Linked DNA regions of Homo sapiens. The protein of the gene in region 2 purifies or fractionates together with the protein of the main gene of each other region. This does not show direct contact. Each region holds a gene or a part of one and is shown on either strand. Other genes may lie near its edges.

Region 1 (3,655 bases), on a different chromosome or scaffold from region 2:
TACAAAAATCAAAGCATGGATAGTAGTTAAGAGATGCACAAAGCACGGAGAGAGTGCTAGAAAGATGGGAAGGCCTGTGCTTCCCTTTCTTCAGAGTGGCTGTGCAAAGAAAGACACATTTAGTACTAACTGTTAATGAGTCTTATATAATTATTTGAATTCAGATGACTGTGCAACATAAATCTTATACAATTATTCAAATTAAAATGACTGTGAAAAGTACCTGGCAGGAAAATACTCATTAGAAAGCTTTCACGTTTACTCTACAGATTCCCTCCTGTCCTACCATACTCTAAACCAATTTTTTCTGAAAAGGAATACTACCTTGTAGCATATGCTGGTTGTACTTCATGAGGGTTGCGACGGTCAGACCAGAAAAACAGCAGTCTATCAAATTTGGGTTCAATGTCAGCAAACTGGGCTTTGCCTTCTGGAAAAATTCGAAGTATACCTCCACTTACCTAGGAAAAGAGCCAAATATGTAAGCAGGAGTAACCAAAAATGCTACAAGATTAAATTTAGGGGGAAAAAAAGAGACAATTTCAATGTCTTAATTGGATTATTCACAAATACGTCTCAATAAAGTATGAAGATGAGCTGCAATTTTAAAAGTATATGCACTGATGCAAGGACAAATTTAGTTCTTATTTTAGGGATATTTATTTATTTATTGAGATGGAGTCTCGCTGTCACCCAGGCTGGAGTGCAGTGGCACAATCTCAGCTCACTGCAACCTCCGCCTCCTAGGTTCAAGCAATTCTCCTGTCTCAGCATCGCGAGTAGCTGGGATTACAGGCATGCGCCACCATGTCCAGCTAATTTTTGCATTTTTAGTAGAGATGGGTTTTCACCATGTTGGCCAGGCTGGACTCGAACTCCTGACCTCAGGTGATCTGCCCACCTCGGCCTCCCAAAGTGCTGGTATTACAGGTGTGAGCCACTGTCCCCAGCCATTTTAGGGATTTTTATAAATATCTGATGAAACACAAGAATGTTATCTGAATTTAAAAGTCTTAAAATGATGCTTGAAAGCTTTTAAAACTACTAAACGTTTATTTTTGTATGTTAATGATTTGCTTAACCCACCCTTCAAATAGATAGATTTCAAGAAATTTTGACAAAATTATTATTAGAAATAAATTATGTCAAATAGTTTACCATACTTTAAAATTCAATAAACAATAGGATAGTCACAAATACCTCTTACTTAAATAATTCAGTATATCAGTAGAAAGTGTCATCATTTATTATGACCATCATTATTGTCGTCGTCACCATCACCATCAGCATATAGTTCATTAGAACCTGTGGCTCTCCCTTTCCAGACTGGGCCTGATGCACAGATGACTACCTGCTTGTGAAACTTGATTCTACCCATAAAGGATTATTATTTACCTAAACACCAACTAGGCATCAAATCGCACTGGGAACTGTGGTGGGCTCTGGGTGCAGAGTAGGGAATAATGCAGACAGACTTTGTCCTTGCGGGGTTTACGATCTGGGGATAGGCAAAACCCAACCAACCAAGTAGCTCCTTACTCTTGAATAACTACACTCCTAAGCAGGTAGACTCTTAAAATTTAAAGAAACTCTAACACCTGGTCAGGACAACATGGCGTTTGAGCCTAAACCTAGAATCTATAGTTAAAGAAAAGGTTTATCAGGCTCACTGTCAGGTAAGTTAAATTCTAGCTACTTTGATACCCTTGCCAACCTTCCTCAGGTTCCAGTGTTGTTCAGAGTGATTCCCCAGGCTACTATGCAAACATCTAAAGAACCTCCAAACTGAGAACATGTCTTCTTTCCTTTTTTCCTGCTCCCTTCCCTTTGACTCAAGTCATTGGGAGTACCACAGGTGACCTGCTGAAAATGTTTTAAGTGAAATGGCTACTTGACACTTCCACTCTTCCTCCTCTGAATTAGGTGGCCCTCCTGTGTGCTCCATAGCAATCTGTCTTGACACTTTGCATAACTATCTGTAACTGTCAATCTTTCTGATCTGTATCCTCCAATAGATCCTAAGCTCTGCCAGGGCTAATTCCGTTTCTGCTACATCCCTAGCATCCAGAACAACTGACACACTACATATTCAGTGCAATCTAGCATGGAAAATTTCTATTCTACACACAAAAACACTAGGGACGTTTCTCTGCCTATGTCCTAATTTAAAACCTACACATTAATGACCCTGACTAAGTATTATAGAAATTATAAGATCAGCCTAGAAAAAGCCTAACAAAATCTAGAAGTTAGAAGCTGATGAAACACAGTTCTAGCTTTCTAGCTATTCACAAAATCTGAAAAAAAGTCAATTTTTAAATTTTAACTAAAGTTACACCCATCTGTTTTGTGCCTTGGGCTCAAATTCAATTACAAAATTTATTTCTCTACTTCAAACTTTGAAAGCTGTAACAGAAAAACCATGCTTGTTGACATGCCTCAATATATACTCAGCAGAAAGGTCAGCTCCATTTTGAACCTGGACTAGGGCAGAGAAAACTCTTTAAATCAGTGTGTTTTAGAAAGATTAGTGAAGCACTGTGAGCATATTCTAAACTTAAAACACTTTTTAGGGCAGGATTAGGTTTTTGCACATTTAAGACTCAGGCAGTTTCCATTTGTGTGTTTTGGGGGATGCAGAGAAAGAGGTTTTTTAAAGGTTATTTGACTTAAAAACAACAAAAAAAGGCACCCTGGCTACACAGGTATGTTCACTTTGTGAAAATCCACTGAACTATACAAGCCACTTTTCTATTTGAATGTTATACTTAAGATTTTAAAAAATCAACCAAAAAATTAGTCTGTACAGTCTCTAGTGTAGTAATATATGACATATTTTTTAAAAATCATTTAAATTTAATGAGACTCAGGCTAATATTAAGGAAATATATATTTAAAACAAGAGAGATTAAATATATTGTACATTCTAATTGGTTTTACAGGGCTTGTCAGTACTGATAAACTTCCAGTTTTTTAATAATCAGGGAAAGACTGAATCCTGCCTCCAATATTCAATTAAACAACTCAATGCCATATAATATTTTTACAAAAATGCCAAGAATAACATAGCAAATAATCCTTAACAATTATCCATAGATAATCTCCCCCAAAAGCCATTATAAAACAACTGTTCTCAGAAATGTTTTTCTAAAAACTATTAAAAGGAAAATATTTTAATAAAGGTCACCTTTCTAAAAAAGTTAGATTTTAGATAAGTGCTCTAACATCTGAAAATAAATGAATCCACTTTTTAAGATATATCAGTACTTTTTTATATGGTTTTGAGGTATAACTGATATACAAAAATGCATATCTTTAACATTTACAATTTGATGAGTTTGGATATATACGCACACCCTCATGACACACCACAACCAAGGTAATAAACATATCCATCACCTCTCAAAGTTCCGTTTCCCTTCCCCTAACCTCGTGTGTGCGTGTGTGTGTGTGTGTGTGTGTGTGTATGTGTGTGTGTTTAGAACACTGAACATGGAGTCTACCCTCTTAAATTTTTAAGTGCACAACACTACGTTGTTAACTACAGGTATCATGTTGTATAACATAGAGTAGTATTTGTTTCATTTTACAAAAATCCACTCCTAATACCTGAGACTGAAACAAATTTAAGAGGAAAATTTTTAACTGTGTCTGT
Region 2 (3,655 bases):
ATATATACCATATATCTATACAAGATAGTAAGTAGAAAATAATCTTATTCTTCTCTTACAAATAAGAGTGACCTCAGGTAACATAATGAAACTGGCTCCAGGACCAAAGTGCAATTCATTTAACTTTTAGCAAGCTTCTTAAATAACTATAGAAGCAGCTACTTAAATAACTATAGAAGAATGTTCCTTCTGACAGCAAGCATACACAAGCCTTATCTTTATGAACTGACTGTTTTTTCCTTGCACAAAGTACATAGCTAATAAATAACTGTTGTTTTGTTTTGATGTGATTATGCTTCTCTACTGTACTAATAGTTGACTTATATAAGGAGGCTCCTAATAGACATATAATGTTTGTTGACTGGCTGAATACATCTCCCAAAAACGGATTGTGTGTTCCTGGGTTTTCTTTAACTGCACAAGTAGCTGAATAAAAACAAGAGATTTTTACTCTTTTTTCTTTTAGAGACAGAAGTCTCGTTATGTTGCTCAGGCTGGACTCAAACTCCTGGGTTCAAGTGATCCTTCAGCCTCAGCCTCCCAAGTTGGCTGGGATTACACCGAGGTGGAATCACCATCTTGACCATATGATTTTTATATCTTTTACCAGCAGAGTCTTTTTTACGAAGTAAAATTTTAGGTAGAACTCAAGATATGAAACAGATAAAGTGGAACTACTATGACTGAAGGAGGGAGGGAAGAGTCCAAGAACTGTAAATTTTAGCCTTCTCTTTCCCTTTCCCTTACTCCCTCTCTCTCTCCTTCTCCTCACCCACTCCCTACTTTCTGTCCCCCACCCTAGAAGACACTTCAGTTATCTCCACGGAGATTTATTTGTCCAGATTGTGAAACTCCTTGATCAGGTAATCTTTCACTTCCTTTTCTTTTTAGCTCAAATTTTCCTTGAGTCTATGCTAGATAATAACATGAGCAAACCACTGCATCTAAACTGTCTATTCTGACAACTATTATATTTTCATTTTTTTCTTTTTATGCAGTACTCAGTAGTTCACACTTTGGTTTTAATTTTTATAATTTACCTTAGAAAGCATATTACATACACTCCCAGTAAGTTTCACAACATTTTTTATATATGAAAAACTGTTATTCCAAAGTAATATAAGGGACTCCCATATAGGTATACTCAGTAAATACAGATATCCAGTACAATAAAGCTAAATATAATATAGTTAACAAGAGTTAAATTCCTTTATAAAAAATTTTTAAATCTGTACTGTTTAAACTTTGCTGCTGACTTAGGTAGTTAGAACTAAGATATCACTTTTCACAACCAAATGTCACCTGAGGACACATTTTGTCACCTTATCTATTTCAGGGAAAGAAAATGCATTTAAAAACGGATGGAGCTATAAAATAATCATTAGAAAACTTCTTGTGTAACACAGGTTAAGGCACTTATGTAACACAGGTGACTATAAATTGTTTCCTCAATTACCACACTGCATAATTTACAAGAAATTTATTACATTGACTATTCTTATTTTGCTAAAAGTACTACTTCTACAACTTATGTCTCAAATCTAAGAACAAAGAACATAAAGTTTTCTTTTCAAAACAGAAATTAGCAATCTACCTGAAAGATCCTGAAATTCAGGCTTTTGACTGAAGATGAGGTAGTTAGTAGCAATGAAATGAAGTAGCCAGGTTGAAAGGCAATCAGAGTGGTGAAACTGCAAGAAAAATGAAAAGTGAAATAATATTGCACATAATGGCCACTGGTATGATAAGATCAAGAGAACGGCCTGGGAGCAATCACGGAGAGCCCATATTCATGTTTAATGTGCCTTTACCTGATGCAGCTTTCAGTATACTGTGACAGCAGACAGGATGAGGGAGCACTATTAGCAAATAACGTTAAAAGTACATTCTCGGAAGAAGCCAGGCCAACAGCGAATAACAATCTACGGCTGCCGGAGTGGCCAAACGTCTTTAAGCAATGCATGGCTGCATCTGAGGTTCTTGAAGATTTAATTTGAGCTTTTAATCTGAAGCCACGGACTTCAATAACTGCACCTGTATCTGTGTAGTAGATGATGGTGAGCAATGTTAAAACAAGTTCACCTGAGGAGCAAGCCAAAAAATATTTTGAGGAGGAAACACCATCGGCCGAAGGCATGGGTTTCAATGTGTAAATGTTTCTAAGAGAAAGCTGTGGCTAAATATTTGCTTTTAATGAGATGTACAGTAAACTGAGCAGGATTTCCAGCTCCATTCTCCTCATTCTGAGTTCCAATAGCTGCTAATGGAGGGAAAACTCCAAGCAAGCAGGCCACTGACATCATCACCTTGGTGCCCATCCAGTGACACTCACTGATCCATCCAACCACCAATGCAGATGACAGTAACTTGCTGGCAGGCAACTTTGGCACATGAGTATAGAACTCTTTTTTTTATTATTATTATTGTGGTACAATATGTGTAACATAAAATTTACCATTTTAACAATCCTTAAGTGTACAGTTAAATGTCACTAATAAGTGCATACACATGGTGGGGCAACCCAACACCACTATCCATTTCCAGGCCTTTTCTATCACCCCAAACTGAAACTCTGTACCATTAAACAATCTGTTTTCTCCCTATCCCTATCAGATCCTAGCACCCACTGTTTTACTTTCTGTCTCTATGAATTTCACTATTCTAGGTACCTCATATAAGTGAAATTCTAAAATATTTGTCCTTTTATGTTTGGCTCATTTAGGGTAATATTTTCCAAGTTTCATCCATGTTGTAGCAGATATCAAAATTTCACTCCTTCTTAAGGCTGAATAATATCCCATTGTACATATATACCACATTTTGTTTATCTCTTCACCTGTCAATGGACATTTGTGTTGTTTCCACCTTTTGGCTAAGTATAGCTCTTCTAAGGAGATGCAAAAATATTAAATAAGCAACAAGTAATGCTAAATTGAAGAAAGATTAGTAATCTCTAAACCTTAATAAAAAAACTCAAGGATATGCTTTTTTTTTTTTTTAAAGCTGTATAGTGTGAGAGTATTTAAACACAAATTCACAGGTCCCTCTTATATTCATTATATAAAATCAATTTTTGAACTGGAAATAAATTTATAGTTTATCTAATCCCACATAACATTTTAACAGTTTTTTTCCTCCCCTTATCTTTTAGCAGATGAATGTGTGCAATCTCAAGGGAAAAGAATAAGAACCTTCAGCTTTTTAGAGAAGCCACCACTACTGTTACGTGATTAACCCAGAGCAGATAACAAAACACCAGGAGGTTAGGACATTGCCTTAAGGGCTGTGACTGAGAAGGAAAAGGGAGGTCACAGAAATAAACAGCTGGCTACAAAGCATGCTTAAAAATGAAGAATTTTATTTTTGACCAAGATTTAAGATATTATCCAAAATATCTTAAATACAGTAGGATGACACATCTGAATAAGCTTTCCGCTTCCAGGAATGAAAGAACTGAGGAATGAGGAATTGGTAGCACATGTGGGGGTTTGGGAAGTAGATTTCAACAGAGCAGTTCTAGCTAATGTACAGACCTGGCCCAGATTCATAGTCTAGGGACTCTGTAACAGGAATGGAACATGTCTCACTGTAAAAACTAGGTTTTAGAAGGATATGTGTTGACGTAAGAAAATGGGTTCAAACTGAAATAAGCAAC
Region 3 (3,655 bases), on a different chromosome or scaffold from region 2:
CTCCTGAGAACTAAAACCAACACGCTTTCCTTTTCCTGTGCTAAAAAATGCTGCAGCCAGGCAAAATAACCTAGCTATTTGTTCTAGGAAATAGTCACTTTCAGAAGACTATATGCCAACAAAAATAGCCTACTTATCAAGACTAGTTTGCTCATTAACACTCACTTCACAGCCCTCATCTAGCTGTACTTACCAGTCTAAAGCTATTATGTCATAAACTCTGCCTAATCCTCACCAGTTCCCTACCTTCAAATCACCCAGCCCAAGCCCCAAAACCCTATCAATATCCTTGCCTTATTTCCTTCATCTGAGAAACTACTAAGACTGTCTAGGAGTGGATACCACTCGTAGTGCAGTAAGTCTAATAAACTTTACTTACTTAGAGTAACAATTCATTCTCATTGTCTTCTTAGAGAGCTTATGGCTAGTCTCCAGCTCAAAAATATTCTGAGACTCTTCACTGCCTATATACTGAAGTCACTTGACAAGTATAACTGCATAACATTCAATACAAGCATCGGGGTGATTCATATCACAGCTACCACTTAGGGACTGTGTGAACATAGGTCAGTTACTTTTGTTCCTGAGCCTTAAGTTGTTCTTCTGAAAAGTGGGGATGCTAGAAGCACCTATTTTGCAGGTAGCATGCTGCATAGCATGTAGCGGGTGTTCAATAATGGTTAGCAGTTATTACTTTTATTTATCATCTATTATGTGTCAAGCACTGTACTAGATTCTGCAGAAAGAAATCTGATTAAGACATTGTTCCTTCTCTGAAGGAATTCAAAATCCTAATGGTCAGTTCAACGAACTCTTATAGGCATAGTAAGATCTCTGGGTTTGCTTACAGTACATGTTCTAGAACTTAAAATTACATTTTTTAATGCTACTTTTTATATTGTGAACAATCTCGTGTACAAAAGAGTATATAGAAGTAAACATGAATGCCTGTGAAGCTACACTCAGCTTAAGAATTAGCATAGCTGTAGTCTTCCAACTTTCAGTTGTAAGATAAAGGCAGTCCAGTATAAGAAAAATGAGTAGCACTGGGATTCAGATGATGTGGAATCTAGACTTAGTTGTGACACTAGCTAAGTGTGAGACATCTCACTTTTCAACTCCCAGTTAGCTCTTCTGTTGAAAGACAGGGGTGGACAAGATGACCAGGAAGGTCCCTCTCTGCTAGAGTGGTCCCTGGTTCTCTAGTCTACTCCTCCCTGCCAGGCTCAGTGAAGAACGACACCTCCAACACTAATCTGCTCATTCTCTCACCAGAACCTTCCAATTTTTCATTCCAAGTTTATTTTTCCCCTGACTTTCAAACGTGAAGAAATCTCCTCTACCTCACATTTAAAACAAAGTCTTCATCAGACATGTTGACACCTCTAACTAGTATACTATCTCTTTCCTTCTTTACAATGCCAAATTTTTAACATGTGGGTCACTTCTGAAATTTCCATTTCTCTATCACCATCAGATCCTTTTTCAGATCCCAAGAACCTATTGTAATTGCTTCCTTGAAAGTCACTAAGACTTCTTAGACCAATTCTTGGTTCTCACCTGCCAAGATGGGCAGGAACATTTCCTAAAAGCTCCTGTGGCTCTTTTTCTTTTATTTTTTAGAGGCGAGTCTTGCTCTGTCAACCAGGTTGGAGTGGCATGATCATAGCTCACTGCATAATCCAACCCCTGGGCTCAAGCTATCCTCCTGCCTCAGCCTCCCAAGTGGCTAGGATTACAGAGGCGCTCCACCATGTCCGGCTCTTGTAGCTTTTAAGACCTTGCCTCATCCTGGCATCTCCCCACACTAACAACTCTTCTTTTTCCTGGGCTGCCTCCTTTCAGCCCAGGTGAATGTAACTGCATACTAAAAAGATCATTGTGCCTCCTACCTCAAAAGAAGAATTTATCTGTGAAGGATGAGGTTATCAAAAAAGCTTTACTGGACAGAAGAATAATAACAACTAAAATAATAATGTTACACAAATTCAGATGTAAGGATATCATTTGGATGTCATTTATGGAGAAAGAAGGGAAAATATCACCTGCCTTGTTGTCAATCACATCAATTGCAATTCATCAGCAAATTAGTCTCATCTACCAATCCAACTAAGTACCTATTTTTGGCTTTTGGAATTTTACTGGGTGGAAGACTGGAGTCTATACTGTTGTCAATTCAAATCTGGTATGTTTAGTAAAAACTAAGCTAGCTACTCGTTCAGGAAGCTTTCTGTGATGTGCCTCAAAAAGCTGCATAAAAGGGTTTGGGGGATAAAAGGAAAATAGTGATAAATGACCTTACAGCACAAACTCAGGTCTCTCTGGCCTCTCAGCAAGCTTCAGGGCTTCATGCATGCCTGCAGCTGAGAGCTTCCGGTTGATATTCCGGTACTGGCACTGGAGCAGGCTGCGATAGGTGGTCCTCAGGTCCCGGTTGAAGAAGGCATATATAAAAGGGTTAATGAGAGAGTTTGCATAGCCTAGCCACAGAAATGTCCTCTCCACCCACAGTGGGATGCAGCTGCAGGAAGTGCCACAGATGAAGGGTCTGGCTGTCGAGAGGAGGAAAAATGGCAGCCAGCACACGGTAAAGGCCCCGACGATGATCCCCAGGGTGGTGGCTGCTTTCTGTTCTCGCTTAAAGATGGAGATGTTTTTCCTTTCATGCTTGAGGAGTCTCGAAAGGTTTGCACACTCTTCCACCTCCTTCTGGAGCTTCACTATGCCATTCAGGGCGATGACGCTGTCTGGCTCCACTCGAGGGAAGCCAGGAAACTTGTGTTTGGCAGCACTCTTCCTGGCAGCCTTGTAAATCTGGTAGTACATGAAAAGCATGACGGACATGGGGATATAAAATGCCACTGCGGTAGAGTAAATCGTATAGCCAAAGTCCTGGCTGATCAAGCACACCTTATCATCATTTACATTCTGAGCCCATCCAAAGAGTGGAGGTAAGGTGATGGAGGCGGAGAGAAGCCAGACGGAGAGAATCATCTTCGCCATGCATTTCCCATTCTGCCTCACAGGGTATGTGAGGGGCCTTGTGATCCCAAGGTACCTAGTGGAGAGATGGAAAGATAACAGATGAACACCGTGATCATAACTGGTCAACCAAGCAAGTCCTGCCAGCCAGGTACCAGCGCCAGTCCTCGCAACAGCCCTTCTAGGTAGGCATCATTACTCCCATTTTGCAGAAAGGTAAACTAAGGCTCTGAGATGTTACCTATTTTATTCCGGGTCACACAGAGGCATTGCCAGATTGTAGCCTGAGAGCCCTCTGACTCTAAAGTCAGTCCATGCTTTGTGCATGCCTTATAGTTTTTCACAATCCACGAAGTCAACAAAGTTTAAAAAGCTCTCCGTCCCCATGACCACAGCCACCAAAATCAACCAGGACAACATATCAACTCTGATGTAGGATGTTGTGACACATTCTCAAAACTTAACCAAGGTCTACCACACTCTGGTATTATACACCCAGTGATCACCCCAGCTGTCTTAATTTAGGCCAGCTTTTAATTCATTTTAGCTTTCCCTTTGCATTACAGCAAAAGCATTTCTTTAAGATCACACAGATTCGTGAGATAATTTGGGAATCCTAGAGTGTTGAAATGGTTAGCAAAAAATGATCATTATTATTATCATTATTATTGTT

Evidence for each region.
Region 1: the proteins of RHOBTB3 (region 2) and EGLN1 purify together in Homo sapiens (affinity purification with western blotting; one study listed by BioGRID). This does not show direct contact.
Region 3: the proteins of RHOBTB3 (region 2) and HTR7 purify together in Homo sapiens (affinity purification with western blotting; one study listed by BioGRID). This does not show direct contact.

What each region holds. Positions count from the first base shown.
Region 1 is NC_000001.11:231,370,238-231,373,892, forward strand, and holds part of EGLN1 (egl nine homolog 1), read right to left. Parts: intron 462-3,655; coding exon 325-461; intron 1-324. UniProt on the Homo sapiens protein: Cellular oxygen sensor that catalyzes, under normoxic conditions, the post-translational formation of 4-hydroxyproline in hypoxia-inducible factor (HIF) alpha proteins.
Region 2 is NC_000005.10:95,786,798-95,790,452, reverse strand, and holds part of RHOBTB3 (rho-related BTB domain-containing protein 3), read right to left. Parts: intron 1,692-3,655; coding exon 1,595-1,691; intron 1-1,594. UniProt on the Homo sapiens protein: Rab9-regulated ATPase required for endosome to Golgi transport. Involved in transport vesicle docking at the Golgi complex, possibly by participating in release M6PRBP1/TIP47 from vesicles to permit their efficient docking and fusion at the Golgi.
Region 3 is NC_000010.11:90,746,537-90,750,191, forward strand, and holds part of HTR7 (5-hydroxytryptamine receptor 7), read right to left. Parts: intron 3,059-3,655; coding exon 2,303-3,058; coding exon of another isoform or gene 2,299-2,302; exon of another isoform or gene 2,298-2,298; intron 1-2,297. UniProt on the Homo sapiens protein: G-protein coupled receptor for 5-hydroxytryptamine (serotonin), a biogenic hormone that functions as a neurotransmitter, a hormone and a mitogen.